Linked DNA regions of Homo sapiens. The protein of the gene in region 1 purifies or fractionates together with the protein of each later gene. This does not show direct contact. Each region holds a gene or a part of one and is shown in the gene's direction. Other genes may lie near its edges.

The links.
Region 2: the proteins of ECT2 (region 1) and COPG2 purify together in Homo sapiens (affinity purification with mass spectrometry, with the first as the bait; 2 studies listed by BioGRID). This does not show direct contact.
Region 3: the proteins of ECT2 (region 1) and ATP2A2 purify together in Homo sapiens (affinity purification with mass spectrometry, with the first as the bait; 2 studies listed by BioGRID). This does not show direct contact.
Region 4: the proteins of ECT2 (region 1) and CAPZA1 purify together in Homo sapiens (affinity purification with mass spectrometry, with the first as the bait; 2 studies listed by BioGRID). This does not show direct contact.
Region 5: the proteins of ECT2 (region 1) and LARP1 purify together in Homo sapiens (affinity purification with mass spectrometry, with the first as the bait; 2 studies listed by BioGRID). This does not show direct contact.
Region 6: the proteins of ECT2 (region 1) and TCOF1 purify together in Homo sapiens (affinity purification with mass spectrometry, with the first as the bait; 2 studies listed by BioGRID). This does not show direct contact.
Region 7: the proteins of ECT2 (region 1) and KIF23 purify together in Homo sapiens (co-immunoprecipitation; 3 studies listed by BioGRID and IntAct, with this or other methods). This does not show direct contact.

What each region holds. Positions count from the first base shown.
Region 1 is NC_000003.12:172,760,726-172,764,225, forward strand, and holds part of ECT2 (protein ECT2), read left to right. Parts: intron 1-884; coding exon 885-958; intron 959-1,690; coding exon 1,691-1,821; intron 1,822-1,965; coding exon 1,966-2,081; intron 2,082-2,184; coding exon 2,185-2,247; intron 2,248-3,500. UniProt on the Homo sapiens protein: Guanine nucleotide exchange factor (GEF) that catalyzes the exchange of GDP for GTP. Promotes guanine nucleotide exchange on the Rho family members of small GTPases, like RHOA, RHOC, RAC1 and CDC42.
Region 2 is NC_000007.14:130,662,249-130,665,748, reverse strand, and holds part of COPG2 (coatomer subunit gamma-2), read left to right. Parts: intron 1-2,710; coding exon 2,711-2,782; intron 2,783-3,500. UniProt on the Homo sapiens protein: The coatomer is a cytosolic protein complex that binds to dilysine motifs and reversibly associates with Golgi non-clathrin-coated vesicles, which further mediate biosynthetic protein transport from the ER, via the Golgi up to the trans Golgi network.
Region 3 is NC_000012.12:110,287,747-110,291,246, forward strand, and holds part of ATP2A2 (sarcoplasmic/endoplasmic reticulum calcium ATPase 2), read left to right. Parts: intron 1-3,500.
Region 4 is NC_000001.11:112,650,832-112,654,331, forward strand, and holds part of CAPZA1 (F-actin-capping protein subunit alpha-1), read left to right. Parts: intron 1-1,756; exon of another isoform or gene 1,757-1,857; intron 1,858-2,766; coding exon 2,767-2,830; intron 2,831-3,500. UniProt on the Homo sapiens protein: F-actin-capping proteins bind in a Ca(2+)-independent manner to the fast growing ends of actin filaments (barbed end) thereby blocking the exchange of subunits at these ends.
Region 5 is NC_000005.10:154,803,877-154,807,376, forward strand, and holds part of LARP1 (la-related protein 1), read left to right. Parts: intron 1-324; coding exon 325-431; intron 432-2,004; coding exon 2,005-2,156; intron 2,157-3,500. UniProt on the Homo sapiens protein: RNA-binding protein that regulates the translation of specific target mRNA species downstream of the mTORC1 complex, in function of growth signals and nutrient availability.
Region 6 is NC_000005.10:150,378,197-150,381,696, forward strand, and holds part of TCOF1 (treacle protein), read left to right. Parts: intron 1-708; coding exon 709-846; intron 847-1,032; coding exon 1,033-1,212; intron 1,213-1,335; coding exon 1,336-1,536; intron 1,537-3,500.
Region 7 is NC_000015.10:69,431,349-69,434,848, forward strand, and holds part of KIF23 (kinesin-like protein KIF23), read left to right. Parts: intron 1-3,500.

The sequences.
Region 1 (3,500 bases):
TTTTTTTTTTTTTGAGACTGAGTCTCTCTCTGTCACCCAGGCTGGAGTGCAGTGGTGCCATCTCGGCTCACTGCAAGCTCCGCCTCCTGGGTTCACGCCATTCTCCTGCCTCAGCCTCCCGAGTAGCTGGGACTACAGGTGCGCACCACCATGCCCGGCTAATTTTTGTAGTTTTCATAGAGACAGGGTTTCACCATATTGGCCAGGGTGGTCTCAAACTCCCGACCTCAGGTGATCTGCCTGCCTCGGACTCCCAAAGTGGTGGGATTACAGGCATGAGCCACTGTGCCTGGCTGTCTAAGTGCCCTTCATAAGAACAGAGCTCTGCTCTTATAAAGTGGTTCTAAGATTTAACTTGTGAATATTATAATAGGAGAAAATACTCTCACTAGGATTGAATCTTAGTTTAAGATTATAGTTGAATGTCTTAGCAAGAGTTTATCATTTTTTCTTAGTCTCCCTTAGTGTATTTGTGTAGCAAATGGTAATTTTAGTGTACTCTTCAATTTACCCTAAATATTTCAACTCATATCTAAGGTTTTAGTGACTTAGTCGGATGTCTTCTTCTGTAGTGCCATCTTGAGGGTCATACTTTCAAGGAAGTAAACGTGAAGAAAGGAGAAATAGAAATTTAATAAAGATGAACTTCAGAGATATATTTATTTAAAATAAGGAAACAGTTCGGACACCATGGAACTTGTTTTGAAGTTATTTTACCCTAACTTGTATGATTGGAAGATAGTTTGTCTGTTAATTTTTAAATTATTTTGTTACAAAGCAGATAGTGATCTAAAACTGCAAAAAATTAAGTATGTTAACTGTTTAGAACTTCCTTGAATGCAGTTATTTAAGGAGAAAATTCACTGTAATGTTTATATTTTTAGGTTGCTGTGAGTCTAGGTACTCCAATTATGAAGCCAGAATGGATTTATAAAGCTTGGGAAAGGCGGAATGAACAGTAAGTGTTTAGAAACTCAGTAGTTCATTATGTAAATTAAACATTCTGGTTTAAAGATAAATCCATGTGCTGAAAAAAGTAATTTCATAGATATAAAAACTGAATTCAGTCTGAGTAGCTTGAGGAATAAAATCTAGGGAGAACAAGTTATAAAAAATTATAAAAAATTAAAAATTGAAAGATATCTTTGATATCTTTGGATTTTACCTTGTGAAGTAATTTTGGCTATTATAAACATTCTGAAATTATTAGATAATAGCTAAATAATTCTGTGTATTTGGATTTTGTTACATATTTTTAAAATTTTGTGTTATCTGGTTACATTTTAATTGGTGCTTGAAATTTATTGCCTTGTTTTGCTTAGTTTTCCAAGCGCATGATTTCTTGCTGTGGCACTTCATGAATTAAGATTTCATGAAAGTTATCATTATTTTAGATTTCATGAAAGCCTTGGAACACAGTACATATAAATCTTCAAATAATAGAGAAAAAATTTGAATCTCTTGTAAAGCTTATCTGTGATCACATTTTGTCAGAAGTTACTTTTGGGATGACAGGACACATCATTTTTTTAAACTGAAGTTTTTGTGAGCATTTCAGGACCAAATATTAAATAGTTTCAATAGATAGATTATGCCAAGACCTTGAAAATTACTGTAGGTTTGTAAATTGATATACCTAACACTTGAATTTAAGTTAAACTGGTTTTGGAAGAGTGTATTTTGTTTTTAGGGATTTCTATGCAGCAGTTGATGACTTTAGAAATGAATTTAAAGTTCCTCCATTTCAAGATTGTATTTTAAGTTTCCTGGGATTTTCAGATGAAGAGAAAACCAATATGGAAGAAATGACTGAAATGCAAGGTAAAATTTAGCATAATGTAAAAGTTATATCTATTTTAGTCCCTAGGCCTGCTTAATCACTTCCTGGTCAATATACCTCTTAAAAAATTTGAGTTTGGAAATAAGTAGCTTGGCTTATTTATGCTTATGTGCATTCCTTTTTAGGAGGTAAATATTTACCGCTTGGAGATGAAAGATGCACTCACCTTGTAGTTGAAGAGAATATAGTAAAAGATCTTCCCTTTGAACCTTCAAAGAAACTTTATGTTGTCAAGCAAGAGGCAAGTAATTCTAGAATGAGGTTGGTTTTTAAAAACACTATTAATAGCTTCTCTGATAAAATAAATGTAAACTGTTTATTAAAATGTTTTTTCTCTCACCTAGTGGTTCTGGGGAAGCATTCAAATGGATGCCCGAGCTGGAGAAACTATGTATTTATATGAAAAGGTATGCTTTTAACCCCTTACTTATTTGTTCTGTGAGCTTGATTGTTTGAAAATAACACTTTTCTGTCCAGAAGGTTTAGAAGCATGTTTAGGAATTTCAGAATGATTAAAACAATTGGGATATCAAGTTATCTTAGTCTATGTAGATTTAAGTGGAACTATTCAATGTAATGTGTATTATTTTAACCTAATATATGTTGTTCTGTGCGAATTCTTGGTGATAACATTACGAACAAGAACATCTCTATCTTCAGAAACTTAGACTTTTAATGGAAAGATAGATTTGTACGTAGTTAACGATGGGGAATGATGTGTGCCACAACTGAGTAATGTATTTTAGGTAGCCTCGCTCTGAGAGACTCAGGAGGGAATAAAAAGGTGAAATAAATGTTGACCCAACTTACTAGGCCAACTAGGTAAGGACATTCGTTAGAACCCCAATTGGGAGAGGGTATGAAAGCTTTGAGAGTACATTAAAATAACAAGTAGTTTAGTATGGCTTTACAGTGTGGGAAGGAAGGCCAACAGATAAAACTTAATGGATAGATAGAATCAAGAAGTTTTTAATACATTAATGAGCTTGGATATTATCCTATAACTATTGGGAGCCATTGAAGAAGAGTAAGGGGAGAGACGTCATTAAAAAGATGAGTTTGATAGTAGAATATCGTTAAGGAAAATCTAGTGTTTATGGTGAATCTTGGTGAAGAGTAGTATCACTCACCAAAATGACAAAGTTATGGAAGTAGTCTTTAAGGGAAGATTTACTTCAGTTTAGGATTTAATAACTTTGTGTGGAATATTGAAGATGAGTTGTTTCTGTAAAATCTATATAGTACCATATTGTGTTCTCTTCAGAGTCTTTGAAATGTGAAGTTCTTAAAGTTTAAAAAGTGTGCTTTAGATTTAGGGAGAGAACTCTTAAAAATCAAGTGTTACTCAGCACATATTGGAAAGCATTGTGTCCAGGCACTGTGCTAGGGATACAGCGAACAGACTGTGAATGGCCCCTGCCTTCTTGGAGTTGATGAGCTAATGAAGGAGCAGGTAGTAAACAAGTTTACAGATGAAAATATAATAGTGATAGTGGCTATGAAGAAAAATGAGGTGCTTGAGGTTAGACAATTACAGTCGTCTCTTGACTATTATGTTTTATGAAACTTTTGAATTGCCTGGTAGAGTGTAGGGTTATAAAATTATTGTGCAAAATCCAGATTCTGTCAGACTTGTAAATATATTTTTCTCTTGTTCCTG
Region 2 (3,500 bases), on another chromosome or scaffold:
TGGGGAATTGGTTCCAGGACCTCCATTGGATACTAAAGTCCATAGATGCTCAAGTCCCTCATACAAATGGTGTAGTATTTGCATATAACCTACACATATCCTCCCATATATAAGTTGTCTCTGTGATTATAATACTTAGACTATAATCTCTAGATTACAATACCTGGTGCAATGTTAGTGCTGTGTAAATAGTTGTTGTGCTGTATTGTTTAGGGAATAATGACAAAAAACCATCTGTACGTGTTCAGTACAAACATAGTTTTTTTTTTCCTTGAATATTTTCAATCTGAGCCTGGTTGAATCCACAGATTCAGAACTCATGGTTATGGAGGGCTGACTATATATGTCTATACACATACAGACGGACACATAAAACATACATATATACCATATACCTCAGGTGGTTTACATATGGTGCTAAGATAACCATGGTTTCCAATTTGAATTCTAAGAGAATATATTATCTTTACTTTGTTTTGTGACTGAAGACCTCACTCAGAGATTTAATAAAGTTTTCTTGTTTACAAATGAAGACTAAGCAACAAGCACATAGATTTTTTTTATTTTTTGAGATGGAGTCTCGCTCTGTTACCAGGCTGGAGTGCAGTGGCGCAATCTCGGCTCACTACAACCTCCACCTCCCTGGTTCAAGCAATTCTCCTACTTTAGCCTCCTGAGTAGCTGGGATTACAGGCATGCACCACCACGCCTGGCTAATTTTTATATTTTTAGTAGAGACGGGGTTTCACCATATTGGCCAGGTGGGTCTCAAACTCCTGACCTTAGGTGATCCGCCCACCTCAGCTTCCCAAAGTCCTGGGATTACAGGTGTGAGCTACTGTGCCTGATCATCAAACACATAGTTTTAAATAAAATATATCTGTTCACAAACAACATAATCCCTCTGTGTCAGCATATGAGAAACATTTAAAGCATAGTCAATTGGGTTTAACTTTTCATAGCACACATTGTGTCTAAGTTGGCCAAATCCATTGTATAAACAAAAGTTTTGAATAGTCAAAGTTGATTGAGAGTAACATGTATTTTTATGTTGGTCATTACCTCTTCAATGAGGCAACTCATGTTGAAACATTTAATTATCTTGATAAGGAAATTACCAAGCACAGCATAAACACAATTAACTATATAAACAGGTTTGGGAACATAAATTTTATCTCTTTGCCTAGAACTTGGTAGAGCTTTATAGAAAGATACTTTTGAATTTCTATGAGAGTTGACATATCCATGTGTTTTCTGAGTTTCAAGTAAAAAAGTAGGATGTAAGGTTTTCCTGTATAACTAAAAAGCACACAGACTTCTGGGTATTCAGTAAATAGTTGTGAAAGAAAGATAAATCTCATGCTGATGAGCAGGCTGGATACACTGATTTAAGTAAGTATAAACTTATTGTACTTTGTCTTTTATCCTAAACTGTCAGTATTTTTCACCAAAATTTATTCTTATACCTATGGCAAATAGATTGAAGACTAGTTATATTTTATGTGGAATCTGAAGCTCTGAAAAGTGATTGAGTGTAACGTATTATATAAGATTGCTTTTAGTGAAGACATTAAATATTGAAATGGTAATATTTGAGGTAATCTATGATTTGAGATGTTTTGAAATACGTTATCTAACACTTTTTCACTGCTCAGAAAATGTAGTTCCCAGATCAGCATTTGCATCACTTGTTAGAAATGCCAAATCTCAGGCCAGGCGCAGTGGCTCAAGCCTGTAATCCCAGCACTTTGGGAGGCCGAGGCAGGTGGATCACGAGGTCAGGAGTTCAAGACCAGCCTGGCCAACATGGTGAAACCCCGTCTCTACTAAAGATAACAAAAAATTAGTTGGGCGTGGTGGTGCACACCTGTAATCACAGCTACTTGGGAGGCTGAGGCAGGAGAATCACTTGAACCCAGGAGGTGGAGGTTGCAGTGAGCCAAGATTGCGCCATTGCACTCCAACCTGAGCAACAGGGTGAGACTCCGTCTCAAAAAAAAAAAAAAAAAAAAAAAAAAGAAAAGAAATGCAAAATCTCAGGCTTTACCCCAGAGCCACTGAATCAGAATCTGCATTTTGGCAAGATCCCAGGATGAATTGTCATGCTCATTAAACTGTTTGAAGCTCTGATCCAAAGCATGTTTTTAGGGGCTTGAACCAATATTGAGCTACATAGCAGCCCCTTAAGCCTAGTTTTTTAATATGATGAATCTGGTTCCTGCCCTTTTGGTTGGTCCCCTTCTTGCCATTTTGCTGAGATTCTGAATAGATAGTTCCTTATATTTTAATATTTATTATGCTCCCATGACATGTTAGGCATTGTGCTGGGCATTATAGATATGATCTCTGCTCTTAGGCAGTGTAATAATAATGTCCTATTGTGAGTGCTGTAATTTTCTCCCTCCTTGTAAACTACAATACTTCAGGAAAATTTCAGATACTTTCTACTAAAAGTTTAGAGATCACTATGCCAGAACTTTTAAGCATGGTATGCGATACTGAATTATTTTAAATAAGGGGGGATAAATGGCTATGTGGGTTTATGCATTGAAAGCCAGAAAAATTGCAGAGGCAGAATGTTTACAAAGAGATTCTTTTTTCTTGAGTTCTAAAGGATTTTTGCAGAAATAGAAAATCCTGTGTGTGTATATGTACATATATATGAATATACACTTTTTAAAATTTAAAAATTGTTTTAAATTTTACTTAGGGTGAACACTTTGGAACAACGGAAGCTACAGAAGCCTTCTTTGCAATGACGCGATTGTTTCAATCTAATGATGTAAGTCTTTTTAAATTTTTTTTACGATGAAAAACCTCCTTTTATTTATTTTCCCCAGGGAACTAAGAGTGTTCTAAATTAGGGAGCATTGCTTGAAATGTTTTAAATTATTTAACTGCTTATAAAACTTATAAATATTCATTATAAGACGTGAAAATGGAAGAATTAAAGTATGCAGTGTAAAACTTTTCCCTGCAGATCTACCGTGAAGTCATAAAGACTGTTAATACCTAGCTTCTGGCATGACACTGTGAAGGTGGACTGATAAAGAAGTCAGTGCACATAGCTACCACATTTGTCAGTTCTTAGTCAAGTTTCTGGTGGGCCTGGGATTGCTGTTAGTCAGCAGTGCTGGCAGTTGAGAAGAAGAGCTGGATGTGGAGTGGGGAAGGGGAATAAGGAATAGAATAAGGAAAAAGAAAAATGAGTACAAACTAAACCTGCCTCTCATTACCTTAGGCCACCCTGACCTTCAGAACATACAGCTGCTGCTTTTTGTCTGTCTTCTAAGTGTTGTGTACATTTTTCTTTTGCCTAGCTCTAAGGCAGAACCATACAGGGAAGGTAATTCTGGGATATGTATTTTCCAGCTTTCCATTAACATAAATTGGCCAAATCCTGCAGTTTTTTGGTATGTATTGCATATCATCACATGTCACATTTTGTGTCAACCCCCAGAACCTCTTGAGATTTGAGTCTTGTTATGGATCTAAATAAT
Region 3 (3,500 bases), on another chromosome or scaffold:
TGGGATTACAGGCATGCACCACCACGCCCGGGTAATTTTTTGTATTTTTAGTAGAGACGGGGTTTCTCCATGTTGACCAGGCTGGTCTCCAGCTCCTGGCCTTAGGTGATCCGCCTGCCTCAGCTTCCCAAAGTGCTGGGATTACAGACATGAGCCACCTCACCCAGCCCAGATAATCCTTTTACACACTGTTTAAAATTTTCAATTTTCCTGGAGATAGGGTCTCCTGTCGCCCAGCGGGTAAATGCAGTGGTGCGATTATAGCTCACTGCAGCCTCAGACACCTGGGCTGAAGCCTGATTCTTGAGCCTCCCAAGTAGCTGGGACTATAGGTGTGAGCCATCATGCTTTGCCCTTTTTTTTTTTTTTTTTTTTTTTTGAGGCAGAGTCTCACTCTGTCACCTAGGCTGGAATGTAGTAGTGGCACGATCATAGCTCATTATAACCTCAAACTCCTGGTTTCAAGCAATCTTCCCGAGTAGTCAGGACTACAGGCATGCCCTGCCATGCCCAACTAATTAAAAAAAAATTTTTTTTTATACACATAGGGTCTCACTATGTTACTCAAGCTAGTCTCCAATTCCTGGCCTTAAGAGATTTTCCCAAAGCATTAGGATTATAGGCATGAGCCACCTCACCCAGCTGAAACAGATAATTCTTTTTTTTTTTTTCCTTGAGATGGAGTTTTGCTCTTGTCAGCCAGGCTGGAGTGCAATGGCGCGATCTCGGCTCGCTGTAACCTCTGCCTCCCGGGGTCAAGCGATTCTCCTGTCTCAGCTTCCCCAGTAGCTGGGATTACAGGCGTCCACCACCACACTCGGCTAATTTTTTGTATTTTAGTAGAGATGGGTTTTCGCCATGTTGGTCAGGCTGGTCTTGAACTCCTGACCTCAGGTGATCTGCCCACCTCAGCCTCCCAAAGTGCTGTGATTACAGGTGTGAGCCACTGCTCCTGGCTTGAAACAGATAATTCTTTATATTCAACCTGTTGTCAAAATTTTTAGAAACATTTTCCCAGTTCCTTGTATAAGTATACTTTGTATAACTTCTGGCAAACCATAATTATGAACTCACATTACTATAGTACTATAATACTGCAGTAAGGGATCTTGCGTTTCAGTAATGTCACTCATCCAGTTTTCCTCCCCTTTCTCTTACCCCATCTCCCTCCCAGTCTCATGGTTTCTGTTGTCAATCCTCTTTCTCCTTACACAAGGCAAGAGGTTTTCTTACCAATAGATCAGAACTGTGAAGGACTGCCCGACATGATCTGATATGGTTGTTCTTCATTTTGGGCTGTAGTATTTTAAAGTAGAGGTTTGCTCTGATGGTCCCATCACTGCTTGCCATTGTCTTTCCCTTTGCTCTAGCTATCAGGGGATGTTGCTTTAAGTTTGTTCCCCAGGCTTTACTGCCAAGAGGGAAATTCATACCCACTTTAACAAGGTGTGAAGCTTATCTTACAGTTGCTAATGCCTCACTGACCTTTTGGAAAGGTCATAGTTACTCTTCAAGTTGAGCGATTTTTCTCCCCCAAGAGCTAATTAAAGTTTCTTGTTTCTGATATGCTCTCCTTGGCAAATGTTTGAAAGTCTAGTATCAGAGCAGCTGTGATCCTGCATCTATCAAAATTTATAACTTCCTAGAGAAGTTTTCATTCTGGCATTATTCCTGGCCTTAACACTAGAATGCCCTGTTGAAAGCATACAGTAACATTTATTATACTCATTCTGGTTGTCTGTTTGCCCTAGCTCACTGGACGTTGGTGGTGATTGGCATCTGTCAGGACTTGGTGGTCCTGGTGCCTCCTGTTTTTATTTTTCTTTTTGTCCTGCTCAAACAGATATTTCTTATTCATGCCGTCTTCTAATGAGTCATTTGGATTCATTATTGCCATAAATCATTTGGAGGAGTGTTTTCATGATTTACTAAGTAGATCTTTTAAAGAAGATTTTATTATGAAATATGCAAACATTTTAAGCAATTTTTTAATTAAAAAAAATTCGACCTCCAAGATTAAATCATTAGATGTGGTTAACACTGTTTCTGGATTGGTAAGTTTCCACAAAAAGAGGTTTTTAAATTTTTAACCACATAGACCACTCTTTACCATATTCATTATTCTTAGTATTCATTGTGGTGAGTTCTCTCTTTTTACCACGTTTATAGTTGTTGGATTGGGAAGTGCAGTGTGACTCTTACTTTGTAGTTTTTAAATCTTAACAAGTTTATAGTTGTATGAGCTAAAAGTTTAAACCTCTGCCCCATTTTCTTGGGGCAGTGTTCTGTGACCAGTTACATTTTTGGACTTAGGTTATCTCTGAAGTGCTGTGTTGCTGTATAAATGTCATATGGAGGATAACCTACAAAATACACTTCGGATCTCCCAACAGCTTTGCGGTTCTGAAACAGCCTTCAGTAGTACCACTGAAAAGAAACGGGGAATTAACTGGTTTTTTGTTTCTTTTATAGAGATGAGGGTCTCGCTATGTTGCCCAGGCTGGTCTCAAGCTCCTGGCATGAAATGATCCTCCTGCCTTGGCCTCCCAAAGTGCCGGGATTATAGGCATGAGCCACTGTTCCCGGCCTAGAATTAAACAGTTTATATATGCTCTAAAATTTAAGTCAGTGATCAAGTTGTTTATACTGTGGATTTATGTCACATGGATATTACTTGATATGAATAATAACTAAATGAACATGACTGTTAGATGATCACCTTTTACTTTAATCAAGAATTGAAGTTTTATTTTTTCTAAATAGATACATATAAAATGAATGGAATTTATTCCCTCTCCCCAGATTTTATTTGGATTCTAAAATGGAATTATTACATCAAAAGATAAGGTATTTTTAAGAAGTATAGTTGTTTTTTTGAGACTGAGTCTTGCTCTAACGCCCAGGCTGGTGTGCAGTGGTGCGATCTCAGCTCACTGCAACCTTTGCCTCCCAGGTTCAAGCGATTCTCCTGCCTCAGCTTCCCAACTAGCTAGGACTGCAGGTGTGCGCCACCACACCTGGCTAATTTTTTGTGTTTCTAGTAGAGGTGGTTTCACCTTGTTGGCCAGGGTGGTCTCGAATTCCTGACCTCAGGCGATCTACCTGTCTCGGCCTCCCAAAGTGCTGGGATTACAGACTTGAACCACCACACCCAGCCATGAAGTATAGTTTTTTGTTTGTTTTTTGAGTTTTGCTTTTGTTGCCCAGGCTGGAGTGCAATGGTGCGATCTTGGCTCACCGCAACCTCTGCCTCCCGGGTTCAAGCGATTCTCCTGCCTCAGCCTCCTGAGTAGCTGGGATTACAGGCATGCACCACCACACACTGCTAATTTTGTAATTTTAGTAGAGATAGGGTTTCTTCGTGTTGGTCAGGCTGGTCTCGAGCTCCAGACCTCAGGTGATCCCCCCGCCTTGGCCTCCCAAAGTGCTGGAATTACAGGCGTGAGCCATCGCACCCGGCTTTTTTTTTTGTTTTGAGACCGAGTCTTGCTCTGTTGCCC
Region 4 (3,500 bases), on another chromosome or scaffold:
GGCTAAGATTAAGAGAAGTTGGTATGTAGTTCAGATACTTCATTTTCTTTAATTGCACTGACACTAAAGCTTTGTATTTATAACTATTCTGGTTCTTATAGACTATAGGTTCTTGGGGAACCCTCTTGTTAAGAGAATTTTCCTGGACCCAAATATTTGATTTTCCATAGAGAAGAAAAATTCAGTTTTATTTCTGTATTAAAGCATTTCAGTCCCTTGGCCATAGTCCTCATAGTAACTGCTCAATTAATGTTTTCATAATCATTGTCATAATTATTGCCTTCAGTCTGTATAAAATGAAGGGCTTGAAGTAGCTAAGATTTACCATCTTTCCTGGATTTCCACCAGTTTCTGGCCACCAGAACCATCCCCAGATAATTCCAGCGCTTCTGGAATAAATAGGGTGTTGTAAGTTATGTTAAAGAGTGAATTTCATTCTGACAGAGATAGGAAGTAAGATTGTTTTGAGTAGAGAATAACATAATGAGACTTATATTTTAGAATAATCACTAGCTCCTGTGTAGAGGGGCAAAAGCTGAGGTAAGATGAGTAATTCCAAGACAATGAGAATAGTTCAGGGATAGATGCTACTGGTTGGACTAGAGTGGTAGCAGTGGGGGTGGTGGGAAGAAGTCAGATTCTGAATATGTACTTAAGTAGAGCCTACAAGATTTACTGATGGACTGGATGTGAAGTGTGAGAAAAAGAGAAGAATCAAAGATCACCCCAAGTTTTTGGCTTAGGCAGCTGGTAAAATGGAGATGCTGTTTACTTGAGATGGAATTAAAGGTAAGGACATTTTGGTGTTGGTGTTGGTAATCTATAGTCTTAGGACATATACTAGAATAAAATATTTACTTCCTACTCGTTTTTTTTTAAACTAACATTTATTCTACTTTTTATGAATAAATTGTATCCTTTCTGAAGAGCTAATGTGTTTGGGATTAATTTTGCTACATGGGGATGTGGTGTTTTAAGGAGTAAAACACAGTAATAACTTTTGGCTGGGTGTGGTGGCTCACACCTGTAATCCCAGCACTTTGGGAGGCCAAAGTGGGTGGATCACCTGAGGTCAGGAGTTCGAGACCAGCCTGGCCAACATGGTGAGACTCCCCCCGATCTCTAAAGAAAATACAGAAATTAGCTGGGTGTGGTGGTGCGCATCTGTAATCCCAGTTACTTGGGAGGCTGAGGCAGGAGAATCACTTGAATCCGGAAGGCAGAGGTTGCGGTAAGCCAAGATCGTACCACAGCACTCTAGCCTGGGCAACAGAGTGAGACTGCATCACCCCCACCCCCCAAAAAAATAAATACACAAAGTATACAGTAACAACTTTTAACAAAATAAGATTGAAAATTAGCTTTAGAGGCTGGGCACGGTGGTTCATGCCTGTAATCCCAGCACTTTGGGAGGCTGAGGTGGGCGGATCACCTGAGGTTGGAAGTTCGAGACTAGCCTGACCAACATAGAGAAACCCAGTCTCTACTAAATATACAGAAATTAGCTGGGCATGGTGGCACATGGTAATCCCAGCTACTCTGGAGGCTGAGGCAGGAGAATCGCTTGAACCCGGGAAGTGGAGGTTGTGGTGAGCCAAGATCACACCATTGCACTCCAGCCTGGGCAACAAGAGCTAAACTCCATCTCAAAAAAAAAAAAAAAAAGCTTTAAATATTTGAAGAAGTTTAAATGTTTGTTACTTTGCTTTATCTTGAGAAGCCTAGTTTTAACCACTGCTTAAAACTAGTGGTCTCCATCCTTTTGTAGTTCATAAGTGTGATGGTTGAGTTTTCACATGCATGTGTGAGATGTGCCTCCCTCAAACCTTGTTATGTTGGCACATTACCTGTCTGACATGGGGAAAAAAAAAAACTAGCAGTCTATTTTAATAGGTTAAAATTGGGAATTCTGTGAGAAGACTGATACTTTTTAAGAATATAAGTGTAGCTCTTATTTCCATCTTTCTTTTATCTTGTCTTTTGCTTTAGCTTTGTAAAATGTATTAGAGAGCCATTAAAAATGCAGAATTTCAAAAATCAAGCTTTGGACAAATAGTAATATTAGGCATGTACTTTGATTATTTATGCATTCCTCTTTTAAAAATAACTACTTTGTGCCTGAGGCTCTACTTTTATACTTGACTCATGCTCAACTCTCACTTCACCTTCTTCGCATGTCAGATGCCTTCTGACATTTAATTATAGTTTCTCGTGACTTTGAGAGCCAAGAAAAAAGATCATTTCCAAAATAGTGTATCAATGGAGGATTCTTTTGAATTACTGAAAGCTTCTGCCCAAATGATTAAAATTGTTGGCAGTTCACAATAATTAGATTGCTTCAAACTTTGGAATTAGCCGAGTGTGGTGGTGTGCACCTGTAGTCCCAGCTACTCAGGAAACAGATGGGAAGATCTCTTGAGCCCAGGAGTTTGAGGCCAGCCTGGCAACGTAGTGAGACTCTATCTCAAAACAAACCAACTTTGGAATTGTCTAAGCAGAAGGTCTTTTGGAGCTCAGGAGCAGAGAGGAAAAGGTAATTTCAGAGTTTAAGGAGCTTCCAAGATCTCCGTAGAGAGGAGTCCCTTCAGAAAGCTGGAAGGCATTATGTTAACACTGGATGTCTGGGGAGAAGGGAAAAGTACAGGGTACTATTTTCACATTTCCTTTCACTATTCTGTGAACCACCTTTTGTGTTTATTTACACATAATTCTTTTCTCTCTCCCTCTTTTTTTTTTTTTTTTTAAAAAACTTTTAAAAAAAAACAGTGCATTTGCCCAGTATAACATGGATCAGTTCACGCCTGTGAAGATAGAAGGATATGAAGATCAGGTAATAATTGCCTTTTAGACAGGCTATGCCTGGCAGATAGTAGAGATCCTATTAATGGAAACCAAAGCAGATGTCTGAACCAGGTGCTGAATAAATTTGTCTTAGTTTTTATAGTTTTTGTGTGTACTGTACGTGTTAGGATATTCTTCTCTTTCTCATAACACTAGCAGTTTCTTTGACAAGAAAGGAGAGCAGCCTCTTAACAAGAACAGTGAAAATGGAAGTATTTAAGTTTTACAGGTTTTCCAGCTGTCTTTAATTCTCCTTGATAAGAGTAACAACAGACATTATATTTAATGGAAAAACAGAGGCGTTCCTCCTGAAATTTAGACTACTTATTTATTACTTTAGGATTTTGGTGGTTGGGAAATGGGATGAGAAAACAGTTCACTTTGTGTATTTTTTCATTTTTGAACCATGTGAATGTATTACCTATTTTAAATGCTAAGTGTAATGGCCCTAAAGTTTCATAATGACTCTGGAAAAATATGTGAAAAAAATACAAAAGTGTACATAAAAGTTATTACAGCTATGTATAAAGTACATATATAGTTATGTATAAGTATATATTAGAAACCAAGAAATGAATATTATTAGTATGGGGGATATTTTGTAGTTTAAAGTTGACTTATTCATAAATACAATATTCTTAATAATACGGGACTTGGTT
Region 5 (3,500 bases), on another chromosome or scaffold:
GGTGGGCTTACCTAGGATTAGGTAGCCACATCTGCAAAATATACTGGGTGTGGGAGTGGTAACCCCATGTTGAAAGGCCTAAGGAGGATTGACCAGGTATGAGTCCTTGGGCAAATCACTGCATTCCCAAACCTTGATTTCTTCACCTGTTTGAAATAGGCATACCAGTTCCTAGCTCACCACTGTGAACTTTATACGAGAATGAATATGAAAATGCTGTTGTAAAATGTGAGAGATCATGCCCATCTTAGTCCTACAAGTGCTTGATGCTCCTCAGAGTTGTAGGAGTACAAACAGTAACAAACCCTGGGCTAACCTTTGCAGATGCCTCGAAAAAGAAAGACAAGACACAGTTCAAACCCACCCTTGGAGAGCCATGTGGGCTGGGTGATGGATTCCCGTGAGCACAGGCCCCGTACTGCTTCCATCAGGTACCTGGGGCAGTGGGGGAAGAGTGATCAGGCTGCCTATGGGATGGGTGGGCGAGCCATGAAATTGACTGGACCAAGAAGATTGGTCTGAAAATTAAAGGGACCCTCATCTAAGAGGTTTTCAAAAAACCAGTGGTGTGGAAAGCTCAGCCCAGGACCTGGGAATGACGGGTAGGCTTTTTTCCTAAAGAAGTGGTGTGGCAGTCACGTGAGACCAGATTTTCATACATGCAGAGAGAAAATCTCTGAATTGGTTTCCAAGCCTGGCTATCTACTTTCTGTCTGAGGAAGAATAGCCAGGTAGTTGAATAAACAGATTTCTGGCAGTCTCTCTGAGCCTACTATGTCTTGGGAGGCTACTTGAAAAGTTTTAAAAATTAAAAAAATACATATTTATTGGCCCCAACCTGTATCTGCTGACCCTGCTTCTTGGGGTAGGGCCCACACTCTTTTTTATTTATTTCAGTAAGATGGCCCCAGTGTGTGTTTCCTGTTTCCCAAAGCAAGCTTTGAGAGCCACCTACCTATGACCAATGCTCTCTACTCCCTGCAGAGATGGCACAGACTGCAAATAGGCATGCTTTTGAAGAAAATATACAATTGATCTTTGAACAACGAAGGGCGTGGGGTGCCCAGCTGCACACAGTTGAAAATCCGTGTATAACTTTTGACTCTCCAAAAGCCTACTGTTAACCAGAAGCCTTACCAATAACATATAGTCAATTAGCACATGTTTTGCATATTATATGTATTACATACTGTATTCTTACAATAAGCTAAATAAAAAATATTACTAAGAAAATCACAAAGAAGGGAACAACAAACACTGGGGCCTACTTGGTGGGGAGAGGGAGGAGAGTGAGGTACAGTTTACCTACTTAACAAACCTGTACACATACCTCTGAACCTAAAATAAAAGTTAAAATCATAAGAGAAAATATTTACTGTTCAGTAAGTGGAAGTAGAATCATCATAAAGGTCTTCATCGTCGTGGTCTTCATGTTTAGCAGGCTGAGAAGGAGGGGTTGGTCTTGCTCTCTCGAGTGGCAAAGGGGAATCATCATAAAGGTCCTCATCCTCATGGTCTTCACATTGAGCAGGCTGAGAAGGAGGGGTTGGTCTTGCTGTCTCAAGAGTGGCAAAGGTGGAAGAAATCTGCGTATAAGTGGACCCACGCGTGGATCCATGCATTTCAAACCCATGTTGTTCAAGGGTTCACTGTAGATGGATTGACCCATGATGGCTCATTAAAAGGTTAAATGCTTAAAGTTAATAAATGGTTAAAAGCTCAAGTTTTATCATTGGACACGTTTCTGCCATTAAATAGTCTTATGACCCTGGATGAGTCTCCTAATCTCTGTAAGCCTCAGTATCCTCTGTAAAACTCTCTGAGAGTTGATGCAGAGTTAATCAGACCCATGGATATAAGTTAAAGGTCCGTAACTGGGCCTCCTTGTTTGATACCCTGTGAGAGGATGGATCTTGGCTGACAGAACGGATCAGAGGGACCCCTCCTGACATGGTGGGGCTGCTGTGGGGAACCTGGTGACAGTATTTTTTGTGGTTTCTGTAGCTCCAGCCCCTCAGAAGGGACGCCTACAGTTGGCAGCTATGGCTGTACCCCTCAGTCATTGCCCAAGTTCCAGCATCCTTCCCATGAACTGCTCAAGGAAAATGGCTTCACACAACACGTCTACCATAAGTATCGTAGGCGCTGCCTTAATGGTAAGAAGTGTGGGGGGCAGGAGATGAGCCTCTGGGCCCGTTATTTAGACCCAGAGTATAAGAGTTGGGGGATACGGGGATAGGTGACTCTTTTCTCTGACTTCAGAGCAAAAAAAAGACATGACATTATAGCAAGAAAGACTGAAGTTAGACTCGGGCCAGGTAGTTTTAAACTGTAGGAAGCTAGGGGGATATGGCACTCACAACGTTCGTGTTCTTTGATCTTCCTCTATTGATTATTAAAGCTGTCAATTAAGTATTTCCATATCTCTGGCAAGATTACTGACTCAGCCATTGTCAGGTCTAGTCCACTGTCCATCACAAAAGGGTATGTAAGAGGTGACATATGCTCTCTAGAACAAAGGTTGCCAAACTGGCCTGTGAGTCAAATCCAGCCAGTATTCTGTTTTCGTATGGCTTTGGAGCTAAGGACAGTTTTTACATTTTTAAGGGGTTGTAAGAAAAAAAGATTTGTGACAGAGACTATATGTCTTCTGTAAAGCCTGAAATATTTGTTCTCTGTCCCTTTACAAAAGTAGTTTGCTGATCCCCTCTCTAGATGATAGTGTAAGGAACGAGCCTGTCTAGATGCTCTTGTCTGTCCCTGCTCTTTTAGTATTCTGATAGGTTGGCTGTAAAGACGCGCAAAACCAATCTAGTCACCTGTAGTTATTAACTCATTCATCCTCTTTCATTCAACAAAACGTGGTTGCTAAATTCTTGATTCATCCACTTCACTTCTCTCTTTCTTACTCTATGTGTAATAACAGCTTTATTGGGATATAATCTACATATGATGGAACATACCTAAAGAATACAATGTAATAGCTCTAAGTGTACTCATATAGTTGTGTGCCCATCACCAGAATCAATTTTAGAACATTTTCATTACCCCCAAAATGCTATGCCCCTTACCAGTCATACTCATTATACATGCAAACTACTCCCCACCCCCAGAATCCTCCCAGCCCTATGAAACTACTAACCTACTTTCTGCCTCTAAGGATTTTGCCTATTCTGGACATTTCACATAAATTATACTGTATGTGGTCCTTTGTTACTGGCCTCTTCCCCTTAGTATATTTGGTATACTAACAAATACACAGCAAGGTTCATGTCATAGCATGCATCAGTACTTTATTCTTTTTATTGCCAAATCATATTCCATCGTATGGATGTATCACATTTTGTGTATCCATTCATCAGTTGATTGGCATTTGGGTTGTTTCTACTTTTTGTCTATTGTGAATGATGCTACTGGGCATATTCACATACAGGTTTCCTGTAGACGTAGTTTCTCCTTTATTTTGGTTAGAAGAGTAGTATTGCTGGGTCATGGGGTAA
Region 6 (3,500 bases), on another chromosome or scaffold:
ATCCCTGAGTGAGGCAGGGGCCTTGAGATGCTGCCAGAGTCCTCATTCTGTTTCACATTAGGCTTGCTGTCACTCCTGTTAAGGATCTCACTCTGGGAATTTCCCTTTTTTTTTGTTCTCCTTCTATTTGTTGGAATCCCTGACAGGCCTTTTGGGGGTTCTCTGGATATCGGTTAAGGCTAGATTAAGCTGAAGAAAACCTTAAACAACAAGTATCTTGTTCTGCCGTGGCTGCTTGAGCTCCAGCTCTGACCTCAGCATTCCATCTAGCCTGGAGGAGGAAGAGACATGTTTCTGACCTTTTATGGCACTCAACTTACATCCTATGAGCCAGAATTTAATGACATTGCCACCTAGCTGAAAGGGAGCCTGGAAAACATCTGTTTTAGGTAGTCTTGTGCTTAGCTAATGCTAAGGAAGGCACGCACAATGAGTTTGAGTGTTTATTATGTTCCAGACATCATGTTAAACTCTGAATCTCCTATTTAGTCTTCATCATAACCCGTAGGTGGGCCTTATTATTATCTCCATTTGATAGAGGACTGAACTGAGGCCCAGTGAGATCAAGTGATGAGCTCAGGTTCACACGCCTATTGCATGGAGGAGCCAGAATCCAGACTCGGGCTCCAGCTCCAGAGTCTGTATTCTTGGCTAGCTGCTTTACTCAATCTCACCTTCTCCCTCCTTAATTCCCTTTTCTCCACTCAGGTGAAAACCTCAGTAAAGAAAACCCAGGCCAAAGCCAACCCAGCTGCCGCCAGAGCACCTTCAGCAAAAGGGACAATTTCAGCCCCTGGAAAAGTTGTCACTGCAGCTGCTCAAGCCAAGCAGAGGTCTCCATCCAAGGCAAGTGGGGCCAGAAGCCACAGGAGGTGTGGAGGGTTGGGGTAGAGAGGAGGACCAGTCACTGAGCCCAGCCAGGAGAAGGTGCGTGCATGGGCAGGCCACCCACCCAGAGTTGTGCCATAGTGGGGAGTGGGACCTGAAAGGAATCACTTTTGCCTCCAATACTATTATCCCCCTGCAATTCAGGTGAAGCCACCAGTGAGAAACCCCCAGAACAGTACCGTCTTGGCGAGGGGCCCAGCATCTGTGCCATCTGTGGGGAAGGCCGTGGCTACAGCAGCTCAGGCCCAGACAGGGCCAGAGGAGGACTCAGGGAGCAGTGAGGAGGAGTCAGACAGTGAGGAGGAGGCGGAGACGCTGGCTCAGGTGAGGGGGAGGGAATGGAGATCATCCCCTACATGGGATGTAACACCTTTGCCACATCCAGCTCCTGTCTTCTCACACGTCCACCCTCCAGGCTCTCTCCTCTCATCCTGTTTCTCCCTCCAGGTGAAGCCTTCAGGGAAGACCCACCAGATCAGAGCTGCCTTGGCTCCTGCCAAGGAGTCCCCCAGGAAAGGGGCTGCCCCAACACCTCCTGGGAAGACAGGGCCTTCGGCTGCCCAGGCAGGGAAGCAGGATGACTCAGGGAGCAGCAGCGAGGAATCAGACAGTGATGGGGAGGCACCGGCAGCTGTGACCTCTGCCCAGGTAAGACTTGCCAGGCCTCTGAGCCACCAACACTCACTCCTCAGAACGGGGGTATAGGGCTGGGCGTGGTGGCTCACACCTGTAATCCTAGCACTTTGGGAGGCCGAGGCAGATGTATCACTTGAGGTCAGGGGTTCAAGACCAGCCTGGCCAACATGGTGAAACCCCGTCTCTACTAAAAATATAAAAATTAGCTGGGCATGGTGGCGGGTGCCTGTAATCCCAGCTACTCGGGAGGCTGAGGCAGGAGAATCCCTAGAACCTGGGAGGCGGAGGCTGCAGCAAGCCAAGATCATGCCACTGCACTCCAGCCTGGGTGATGAGAGTGAGACTGTCTCAAAAAAAAAAAAAAAGAAAAAAAAGAAAAGTGAAAAACCAGGGTTTAGGGCCAGGTAAGGAAAAGAAAGGAAGGCCAGGTTAAGGCTTAAGGCTCCAGTTCCACCATGCCCTCCTCCGTCTGCTGTCATCCACATCTCCTTAGGTAAAACCTGCTACTAAAACCCCCCAAACGAAGACTTCCGTAGCTAAAAGTGTCCTGGGTCTATATCTAGGTCGAGGTCTCCACCAGCTCTATAAGCTAGGCCAGTATTTCCCACCAAGGCATATGAGACCAAGAATCTACATGTTAGTTATTGTGCATACGTTAACGTTATACAAAATGACTCTCCCTGTCAGAGTCCCAGGGAAGCTTGGAGTGTGGCACAGGTCCCCCTGAGGTCCTGGAGAGATGGAGGAAGTCTCATCCTGCACCTTGGCCCGGAGCCTCACATAGGCAGGCGCATCTTCTCAGGCAGGGCTTGTCTAGCTTAGTGCAAAGCCTGGACCCTGGAGAGTGGGGAGAAAGAAAATCTGAACAATTCCCTCTGTCTGCTTGCAGAAGATAGCAGGGCTTGCTACATCCTACAGAAGTGTAGGATGACAAACTCCAGCACTGCCAAGGCACAGGTGTGTGATGGAAATGACTGATGCAGGCCTGGCAGGAATGATAGATGTCGGCCGGGTGCGGTGGCTCAAGCCTGTAATCCCAGCACTTTGGGAGGCCAAGGCGGGCGGATCATGAGGTCAGGAGTTCGAGACCAGCCTGGCCAACATGGTGAAACCCTGTCTCTACTAAAAAAATACAAAAATTAGCCAGGCGTGATGGCAGGCGTCTGTAGTCCCAGCTACTCGGGAGGCTGAGGCAGGAGAATCGCTTGAACCCGGGAAGCAGAGGTTGCAGTGAGCCAAGATCATGCCATTGCTTTGCACTCCAGTCTGGGCAACAGAGTGAGACTCTGTCACAAAAATAAAAAAAAGAGATGATAAATGTCAGGAGAGATGGTAGATAGTGGTAGCAAGTAGGGCAGACCGGAGAGCCCTTGCCCCATCCAGAGGGGCAGTTCTTATCAGCTTCAGCCAGTCATGACTGTGGAGATGGACCTTCTGTGTGGCCAGGTCTTCCATTTCTTAAGGGAAGCTGGAAGTCCCTGTGCCAGGCCAAGCTCCATAACCTCTTAGATTTGTTTTCTTCATGAGTAAAACAAGCACTGAGATGAATGCTCCCTAGCCCTAACCTCTGCCTTTGATACACCAAACCAACAATTACTGGGGGTGAAAGACATTGGCCCCACCCTCAAGGAGCTCACAGTCTGTGGGGCAAGACAGGTGACCGGATTATCGCAGACTATGCTAGTGGTGCTGACAGCTGAAAGAGCAGGTCTCTGAGAGGCCAGAAAAGGAGGAGATGATTGAGCTGAACCTGAAGGATGACCAGGCACAAAAGTGGAGAAGGCCCCTCAGTGTGTGCAGAGGGGCTGGGCATGAAGGCACATGGTCACTGAAGGCAGCTGTCCTGCAGGCCGTAGGCCCTCCCAGGTGCTTGTTACTGGTAGATTTATGGAGGACCTAAATGCCAGACTAAGACATAGGCCCCGGCCATATTTTGGGCTGTGTAGTTTTTTTGTTTTTAAGTTTTCAATGAGTTC
Region 7 (3,500 bases), on another chromosome or scaffold:
CACGCCTGTAATCCCAGCACTTTGGGAGGCCAAGGCAGGCGGATCACGAGGTCAGGGGATCGAGACCATCCTGGCTAACAGGGTGAAACCCCATCTCTACTAAAAATACAAAAAAATTAGCTGGGCGTGGTGGTGGGCGCCTGTAGTCCCAGCTACTCGGGAGCCTGAGGCAGGAGAATGGCGTGAACCCGTGAAGCAGAGCTTGCAGTGAGCCGAGATCGCGCCATTGCACTCCAGCCTGGGCGACAGAGCGAGACTCCGTCTCAAAAAAAAAAAAAAGAAATGATTGAAGCAATTGGGTGAGATAAGATAATTCATAGCGAATGGAGAGGAACAAGCTGAGAGCAGAAGCTTGAGGAACAGCAAGCCCTTGATTATTAGCTTGGGATGGACAGAGAAGGGTGATAGCTAAAAGGGATTTGAGGGATTATGAAATGATGAAAAAATACACACACACATTATATATGTACATTAGAAGATAGTAAAGACTTGAGTTTATTCATATGCTGAAGAGATGATGTTTAAGTCCAGTGGTGAGAAATGGGGCCTTTAGAGCTGCCTCTACCCTGGCCCAAAGGACTCTTGCAATTTGTCTGAATCATTTGAATTTCATGAGAGTGGACTGTGTGTGTGCTGTCTGTCAATGTCTACCCAGTGCAGCTTACCTACTAGGTGTTCATAATAAAGTGGTGATTATTGGCGGAGCAAGATCCTGGAAGAGGCAGGAAAATCTGAATCTAGATCCAAGAGGAAGGATTAACTTTGATGGGACAAGAGCTGGTTTGGGAAGAAAGTAAAAACTTGAAGTTTTGGATGCTTTGGGGAAAAGCTAGAAAGGACTGTTAGTGTTAATATAGAGTTAGGGAGTGAGAGAGAAAAGGAGATTGTAGTTGGGGCATATGGCAGAGGCTCCAGGTTTTTAGAAGTGGTACACTTCTGAGGGATAGGGTTTGGGCTGTCAGCTGTAATGGAATAGAGATAAAGATTTACTGGAGCTGGGACATTGGGACCCTGTGACTACAGCATATGAGAATGATTGTTGTTCTCATGGACACCGAAATAAACCAGGGACTGGCATGTAGGAGGAATATTTCAAGGCAATAAGGAGGAACTAGGAAAATGTTGCTAGCCTCTCCCTCTGTTTACCATACTTGTAGAATGTCAGCCTTTAGAAAACAAGTAGCTTTTTTTTTTTTACTCCAAAAGGCTACAGGGCTGCAGCAAGAGATAAATGGTTAGGTTGCAGGGCTGTGTGCCATGGATGTAGGGTGAAGCCTATGGACCCTTCCTGGTATAGTATTTCTGAAGGTATAACACAGAGAGGATTACAGAGGAAACCAATTGCATTGAAATGTGTTTTAAAAGTATTCTTAAGTTTGTCATACAGTAATTATGTGCTTCTTTATTAATACCTTAAAGACACAGCAGCAGGTCTGATTAAATAAATGCAGTGTAATGATGAACATAAATATCTTGATGAGCAACAAACTGTAACATGCTATAAAAATATCTGTGATTTGTATTGATACCAATTACAGGTACTACTAATGCTGTGGTTTTTGGCCTGCATTCATAATTGAAGGAACTAGTGAATTCCAGTTGGTTTGGTAAAAAGTAAATAATGTAATTTATTTTCCATCTAAGTATGCAGACACCCCATCATGTTCCCCCGGACAATATAGACCTCAGGTTAAGAACCCCTGACCACTAGGGAAAGCTATCAATGGATTATTTTGTGAGAGATTTGAAGATGCAGGGAAATCTGTTAATAACATGAGTTCCTGAGAGCACAGTGGAAGAAGAAAGAACATTAGGAGTTTGGGTCAAGGAACGTAAATCATGAATCATGGAATATTACAGAGGTACAGATGAGTTCTGTATTTTGGGAGGTGTATCCAAGATCCTCCAAGGAGGCCAAGGGTGAAAGCATAATCGAGTTAGCTGACCTCAATCAAGGTTTCAAAATGAACTCATTCTTATGGGGTCTAATCAGATGAGAGCTGCATTCTTGAAAGCTTGATTAGACTGTTAGACTTGCCTTGGCTCAGAAATCCAAATAAGAGTGGTCAGAAGTAACAAGTATGCCACCTAAGAAATCCTTGCTGAGATGTAGAGGGGACAGAGTTAGCTGATTCTGAAGACACTTGACTGTTAGAAACAACAGGAGAGCCCCTCTAGATGCAGCAAGAGCTTCAGACTCTTGCATGCTTCTTATGAGAATCTAATGCCTGATTATCTGAGCTGGAATGATTTCATCCCAAACCACACCCCTCAAGCCTCAACCCATCTGTGTAAAAATTGTCTTCCATGAAACTGGTCCCTGATGCCAGAAAGTTTGGGGATCTGCTGCCTTAGAGAATATATTTTATTTATTTATTTTTTATTTTATTTTATTATTTTTATTTTTTAGCCACATAAAAGGTAGCAGCACACTTATTTGGAAAACAATAATTTCAAAATCATCTCCTGAACTCAGAATCGATGGGTCAGGGTAGACACCCTAAGTAAACAGGTGAAATCTTCATTAATTGTTCACTTATTAAGTAAAAATTTAAATTAATTGATTATGTACAGCAGTGTTTTTCCACATTTCCCTGATAAGAATCATTTGGAGTACTCTGTAAACACAGCTTCACTGGAGATTAATCCCATCAAATTGATTTAGTGGCTCTGGGATGGGCCACAGTAGTTTGGAAATTTTTATTTTTACAAATGCTTCCTGATGATGACCAAATCCAAGGAAATTTGGGAAACACTGATCTGGAACATAACTTTCAGTTTTCCCTGCAGTTTTTAAGTCTTGAACGACTGATCATCCTAGAGATAACCCACTGAAAAGTCTTCTCCAATCCAGTTTTATGAAAGAAAACTCTAGAACATTTGGTTTGATAAAATTTTTCCGAAGCACCAGAAGTACTTTACTTTGGCTTTTTAAATTTCTGGTCCATCCCTTCTAGTTCATGTTTTCTTGAAGAATCCATCTTCTTTGAGTTGAGCCACAGCAATCTAATCTTTTTTTTAAATAATTGGTTTCTTATTAAAGGATTGCGACATTTAATAGCCGTTGCTTGCTTTTGTCTTTCTCCCTTCTCCCTGAAACTTGTTAAGAGATGCCTCAATATTCTGGCCTTTCCACCTTCAATCTCATACTGACCACGCCGTGTATGCCAGCCTGGATCTCATAGTTTTCTTTAACTGGTTCAACTCCCTTTGTTGTCCTGGTCAAGATAACATCTCCTTCTTCCAAGGTCATGATCTTAGAAACATAGTTGATGATGTAGGGGATGGAAAAAGTCATGGAGGATGTCTCACCCTCCTGTCTTGAGTTCGCCGTTGACCTTGAGCCAGAGCCTCAGATTGGGAGGATCAGGGATCTTCTCCTTGGGCACGAACGCGCTGACTGGGCAGGAGGCCATAAAGCTCTTGGCCAGAGTCCAAGGCAGCCCCTTCTTCTTGCACTCATCCTGCACGTCCCTGGCAGTAATGTCCAGGCACAGGGC